Linked DNA regions of Homo sapiens. The protein of the gene in region 1 interacts with the protein of each later gene in a biochemical or structural test. Each region holds a gene or a part of one and is shown on either strand. Other genes may lie near its edges.

What was found.
Region 2: the proteins of GPSM1 (region 1) and USP9X form a complex in vitro, tested with the Homo sapiens proteins (one study listed by BioGRID).

What each region holds. Positions count from the first base shown.
Region 1 is NC_000009.12:136,341,039-136,344,538, reverse strand, and holds part of GPSM1 (G-protein-signaling modulator 1), read right to left. Parts: coding exon of another isoform or gene 3,379-3,500; exon of another isoform or gene 2,701-3,378; intron 1-2,700. UniProt on the Homo sapiens protein: Guanine nucleotide dissociation inhibitor (GDI) which functions as a receptor-independent activator of heterotrimeric G-protein signaling.
Region 2 is NC_000023.11:41,165,445-41,168,944, reverse strand, and holds part of USP9X (ubiquitin carboxyl-terminal hydrolase 9X), read right to left. Parts: intron 3,074-3,500; coding exon 2,731-3,073; intron 1,464-2,730; coding exon 1,368-1,463; intron 939-1,367; coding exon 727-938; intron 1-726.

The DNA.
Region 1 (3,500 bases):
AGAAGCCACCAGTGTTCTCAAGCTCCCCCTTCTTCCTCGCTGTCTCTGCTAGGTGAGGACACAACAAGAAAGCGCCGTCTGCCAGCCCGGAAGAGGCTCTCGCCAGCACCCGAGCACACAGCACCCAAACCCTGGCCTTCTGGCCTCCAGAGCCGTGAGGAGTAAACGTCTGCTGTTGCTGCCCCGGCCTGCGGTGCTTTGTGAGGGCAGTCGGAATGGACCATGATGGTCATCTCCCAAAGGTGCTGCAGCCTGCTTCCCCTGTTCCTGTCCGCGCCTCCCCTGCTCCTGTCTGCGCCCCACCCCGCTTCTGTCCGCGCCCCCACCCCGCTCCTGTCCGCGCCTCCCCCCGCTCCTGTCCGCGCCTCCCCCCGATCCTGTCCGCACCTCCCCCGTTCCTGTCCGCACCTCCCTGTTGGGCTTTTCTTTCTCCCAAAGCTCATCCCATGTGGCTCACTCCTGGGCTCCCCGTTCCTCACCTATCAGCTGCTGGACGCGGCTCAGCGGTCTTGGTGCCAGTGAGGGCCCCAGCAGTGCCTGGCACACGGCAGGAGCCTGGTGACCAAGCAGCAGGCATTTACTGTGTATCTGCTGCGTGCGGGACCCTGTGTGCCATTTCCCACACACTGTCCCCTCTGGGCCCTCTTAGGCGCACGGACAGAGGGTGCATCCTCCATCCCGGCGGCTGCCCAAGGGCCACTGGGCTGCTGGAACAGGCGGATGGTGCTGCAGCCACACCTGCCTCGTCCACCCAGGGCCCGAACGCAACAGGCTTACGGGCCCTCAGGCTCGCTGGCCTCTCACCCCTGCCAAGCTCTGTTCCCAGCACTACTGATGGGCCCGTTCCCCAGATGGGGACACTGAGGCACAAGTGGGTCAAGTCACTTGATCAGCTGGCCAGGGCTGGAGCCCACAGCCTAAACTGCAGGGGAGGTTATGCCATGCACATCCCTGACCCCAAGGCCACTCGTTGGGACGTTCAGGGGACTTCTCCCAGGAAGGCTGGTGGCATGCTCCCCCAGTAACTCTTGTGTACCGTGCTCACAACGCCCTGAGCAGGGCCCAGACGGTGGAGGGCTGAGAAGTACGGTCAGCAGGGCCGAGGGCAGTCGCACATCCTGTGGGACAGGCAGGGCCATCGGGGACAGGCCAAGGGCAGGGGGCGGTCCTGCAGGGCTCAGGGCCGGCTCCCTCCTCCCAACATGCCAATCATGCTGCCCGCACCAAGAGTGGCAGCAGAGCCTCCGTCCTGCCTGGCACCCTTGCTGGGGTGGGGGGTGGGCAGCCCAGGAGCAAGTGTGGGAGGCCCGGGCCTGTGCCCTCTGGCCAGGGAGGTGGGGGCTGGTTGCTGTCAGGGTCTCATAGAGGCCACACACCCAGAGGAGCTGGACAAGGGCAGTGGCTGGCAGGGTGGTGACCCCCAGACACACTTCTGGGGCTTCTCTGCTGGCTGGGGAGGGGCCAGCAGAGGGCGGTGAGATTAATACGCTGACTGAGCCGCGCCAAGGCTCTTTGTCCTCCAGCCGCACGTAAGTCTCCTTGTGTTTATCAACGGGACACCAAACCCACCAGCCTCTGCCACGCCCACCGCCCCCATGGACCACGCCCACAACAGCAAGGCCACGCCCCACCGCGTCCCCGCCGGGCTGAAGCCCCACCTCCAGACGACTTCCTCCTCCCTGCCCACACCCCGCTGGGCAGCGCCCTCCTGTGCCCCCAGCCCTGGCGCCCCCTCCGCACGGCCAGGCTCTAGCGCGGCTCTGCACCCCCCTCCCCTCCCGCAGCTCGCAGATCCACCCCGCCCTCCGCACCTGCCGAATGGGGAGGCTGCGTGGGTCCTTCCGTGGCGCCCCCAACCCGCAACGCCGGGTCCAGACTCCCGGCCTCAAGGCCCTGTCCCTGCCAGGCTCAGCTGAGCCGGGGTCTCACCCAGGGCCGCCCAGGCTCTAGGTGTGCAGCCTGCCTCCCACAGCGGCAGCCGGGCGGCGGCCCCAGCCAGGCTGCCGGGCTGCCCTGGGCGGGGAGGAGGACCCTTCCCCAGCCCTGGGGGAGGAGGCGTCCGGCCGGCTGGAAGGGGTCCCGCACTCGGGGCGGCACAGAGGAGCCAGAGAGGGACAGAAGCTGCATTGTTCCAGCGTCCTCCCACTCCGGCCCCCCTTTTCCTTGGCTCCAAGAAAGAAAACGTCGGGAGGACCCAGAGCCGCAGCCTCCGCGGAGCCTTTCCAGAGCTGCTCCCAGCCCTGCTGCCAGTTGCTGCTGGGGTCCCAGATGGTGGCAGTGCCGAGCCAGGGACACAGGAGGGTACTAGGGGTGCCGCAGGAGCTCTCGGCAGAGCTCCCCACCCTTAGGAAACCCCGGCCATGGGTAGAAATAGGCCTGGACATCCTGGGGGGCACATTCCAGCCCATCCCCTACCCACCCACTGCCATCGGTCACAGCACCTTGTCCCACGGACTCGCTGAGGGCCCCAGAGCCTCTGCTCCTTCCTCTGTCTTCAGCCTCTGCGGTGGCTGACATGCACCCCCAATTTCCCAGGAGAGGTCATCGTCAGAAACCCATGAGCACTGTGGCACAAAAACCCAGGGGATGGCTGGGCACGGTGGCTCACGCCTATAATCCCAGCACTTCTGGAAGCCGAGATGGGAGGATCGCTTGAGGCTGGGAGTTTGACACTGGCCTGGGCAACATAGTGAGGCCCTATCTCTATAAAAACATTTAATTATTAAAAATAAGATAAGAAAAAGAAACTCCGGCAGCCCAGCACCACATCCAAGCCTGGTGTTCCCAGCCTGGTCCTTAGCAGGCCTGGGGGGCACCAGGTACGTTCTGGGAGGCAGGCATCCCTTCTCGGGGGCTGGCAAACTCAAGACCTTTGGGAGTGGGGGACACATGGGTGGGGCAGCTGCTCCCCCCAAGCCTGCCCCTCACCCACCTGCCAGCCACCTCAGGAAGTCGGCCCAACCTGGCACCACCCCCCTGGCACCTATTAGTCTTTTCGCTTTGCAGGGGACGTTCTGTCCTGTGTCTGCAGCACTGCTGACCGGCATGGGACGACCAGCGGTCCATGAATGAGGTCACCACGGTGGCCTCGCATGGCCTTGGGCCTTGCCTGATTACTGCCCCAGGCACATAGGGCTCCCACAGCCCAGCCCAGCCCAGCCCAGCCCAGCCCTCTGGCTGATGCCCTCTCGCCTCCCAGCAGCCCTCTCCTACTTGGGTCTGAGGACAGAAGCCCTCCCTGCACCGAGGGCTCCAGGGGGAGGTGGGGGTGGAGGCCCTGGAGCAGCCAGTGGGGCAACAGGCGACCACCTCCTGTCCTTCATCCAGCAGCCCTGCAGCGCCACTCAGGATGCGGGTGGGAAGGGCTCAGGGTGAACCTCAGGCCTGTGCTGTCCCTGAGGCCAAGAAGAACTGGCTTGTAGGCGCCATTTTCTGGCGGCTGCCACCTCCGCCATGCTGGCCTGGCCTCGATCCCACCCCTCCGCAGCTCCTGATGCGGT
Region 2 (3,500 bases), on another chromosome or scaffold:
GAAGCAACTGTATATAATTTCATGATTAATAAACAAAACTCTTTAAAAAAAATGATGGCATTGACTACACAAAACATCCCAAAACTATAAACACCATTTGAAAATATTTGTTATATGCCATGCAAGGCAGCTTTTAAGAGCTCTTTACAGGCCAGGCACTGTAGCTCACGCCTATAATCCCAGCACTTTGGGAGGCCAAAGCAGGAGGATTTGCTTGAGCGTAGGAGTTTGAAACCAGCCTGGGCAATGTAGTGAAACCCCACCTCCACAAAAAGTCAAAAAAAATTAGCCAGGTGTGGTAGCCTGTGCCTGTAGCCCCAGCTACCTGGGAGGCTGAGGTGGAAAGGTCGCTTGAGCCCGCAGTGAGCCATGATTACACCTCGGCATTCCAGCCTGGGTGACAGAATAAGACCTTTTCTCAAAATAAACAAATAAACAAAAACACTTCAACTGCAAAATGCCACTGCAACACTTAATGAGTAATAATGTCAAAGACAAAAAGAAAACTAGAAAACAACTTAAGAATGCCTCACCCAAAAAACCAAAACAAAACCAGATGGGAGAGTGGGGGAGGTTATTAAAAAAAATTAGATGAAATGAAAATGTTTTTAATGGGCAAAGACAACAATTTTCAAACGAGAAAAATTTCTGCTCTCCTTTTACCAAATGGCTAGGAAAATATCAAATAATTAAGAATTAGCACCAATAGATTAGTTATTCACAAACCTCGACATAGGGAGAATTGTTCTTTCCTCATGATAATCACTGTCACATTCATTTATATATTCCCTTAAAACAGTTAATACTCGAACCATTCGAACAGCTTCCTGTCTTGCACAATTAACACTGTCTTTGTCACCATCCAAAACACACAATGTGTCATAGGAAGCCTTCAGACGATCAAAACAAGACTGAATGAAGTCTTCATGGATCACCACCTACAAATATCAGGCCAAATAAACACAGTTAAAATTGCTTTAAAATGTAAAAACCAAATATTAATCCAATTAAAGATGGCAATGGCTGATTTAATTGTAGCACTCAATTAACAACAGTCATATTTAAGTAGAGAATCCATACAATAATAAAATGTATGTTTATTAAAAGGAAGCTAGCATTACATAAGTTAACAAACATAAATTAGTCAAAAGTGAACTTCAGGATTAGGTGTTAGCATCAAAATGAATTCACATAGACTTTCTTTGCCATTTCAACATCTAATAAATAGTTATATTAAAAATAACCCAATCACTTCAAGACAACTAACAAGGCAAGATTCATTTAGATAATATTTTTTCTCTTTTGTATAAGAGAAATGGGGGCCGAAAGAATTATATATGGAAGTTTTAATGCACATCAATCCTCACCTGATTGACTTGTAGTCTTGGACCAAGGTTCGTGTATATCTCTTTGAGGAGATCTATAGCTCTGCTGGCAATATCATCATTACTCTGAATCACGACCTGGTTTCAAAATGATAAAAGTATTCATCCCTTTCAACATATATTTTTGTTGGGCATTTAAATTCAAACCATATCCTCAGTTATCTTAAACACACTATTCAATGATTTAATGGTAAGTTGACTTTGATAATCAAGTAAAATTAAGTGAGAAGCACAGACCAAAAGAAAGGGTAATAAATGCAAAATGAAAGTCTCTGAATAATTTAAGAATGAAAGGTACATTTTTGTAAAAATAAAATACGCTTTGACCACTATTATTTAACCCTATAATTTAATATCTTGATAACCAAGTGAGACACTCAAGAAGAAATTCAAATTAGTTGACAGGAAATAAGAGATTACATGAAACACAGTTTAGCATAAAGGACTACTCTACCCCCAGTTTCTATAAATCTTTATCACTCATCTAATTACATTAGTGGTTTCCAAACTATGTTCAGAACCCTAGGGGACTTTGAGGAAGTGTTTCAGTGTTGGCCCCTATAAAAGGGTTGGGGAGGGGAAAGGGGATAAGCATGGGGAGACCAAGTAAGAAAACATATTTTCCTTGTTCAATTCAGTTTACTTTTGTAGTGTGGTGCAAATTTTGAGTTTTAAGATGTGTTTCTGCTGTTAAAACAATGTTGAAAACCACATACTTAATTAAAAGCTTTTAAATACTCAAATGCCACAATAAACATCTTTATCTATGGTTTGCAGGAAAATATGTGAGACATCCAAACAATATAAACTGCTGTATAACAGGTCAGATTAAAGATAGGCATAATAGAGTAGTACTATAAAAATAGATTAGCCTTAAAAAGATAGTATTTTATTCCCCCAGGTATTTAAAAATATCACAAGGTAAACAGTGCCAATAAAGCATATACTCATAATCTATACTAAACACAAGTCCTCTCTTCTGTCCTCTATTTTAGTGTTAAACATTGAAGAGGAGGAAACAGATCGACACTGAATGAAAACTCGGGAAGGAACATTAATATCCACGGGGGAGGAATGAAAGATTTGTATGTTTAGTGCACATCTATGGAATACACAGATACTAAGCTAAGACAAAAGGAACATCAGTGGCAGGAGGAGGGAGAGGAAGAGAGAAGAAAAAGCCCACTGACAGGTGACATAATAAAAATGAACAATTCCTAACTACACCAAATTCCTGAGACAAACATCAGAGTAAAATACACAATTTATATGCAAAATTACAATTCCTTACGTACATGAAAAAGTACATCAGACACCATTTACAGAGTTCCTACTTTTGACTTACCCTCCAAAGGTAATCTAATCCTATTAACTCCAAGTCATCCATCATATAGGCTCTCCTTTTTGCTACTAGTTTTCCTTCTCGACAATTCACAGCTTTGAAGAATCGCTCAAAACACTTCATTCCATTTTCAGTTAACAGAGAAGGATCAAGCTGAAGCACATTACTTTCAAAGAAGTCCTTATTAATATCAGGATCTAAGTCTGGTTCATCCCCCATCAACTTGGAATACCACTTAAAACAGGCTTCACGATCACAAAGGTAAACTGCATTCTCAGCTAAGCATTTCCATATTTGTTTTGCCTGAGGAGCACATAGCCACAGCTGACCATCCTTCAATAAAAATCTTGAAAAAACATTGAAAATTGGCAATTAGATTTATGTAATTTTTATCCGGAAAGGCAATCTGTATTACCTATAAAATACATTTATCACCATTATATTTTAACTATAGATAAAAAGATATTCATTCTTTCAAAATAACCTATTTCTCTACTTTTATCTGGTACTAAAAAAAAATCCCCACTAGATATTAATTAATTCAACAAGCACACACTGAACACCCACTTTGTGCCTGAAATGCAGCTAGCTGAATTAGGAATAAAAGATTCATTCCATGAACCTTTAGTTTTTGAAACCAGACTTTTGGAAAGAAGCATGTTTAGTAGCTTGAGTTAAAAATAAAAGACTTAGGCTGGGCACAGTAACTCACGCCTGTAATGCCAGCACTTTGGGAGGCTGAGGTGGGCGGATCACCTGAGGTCAGGAGTTTG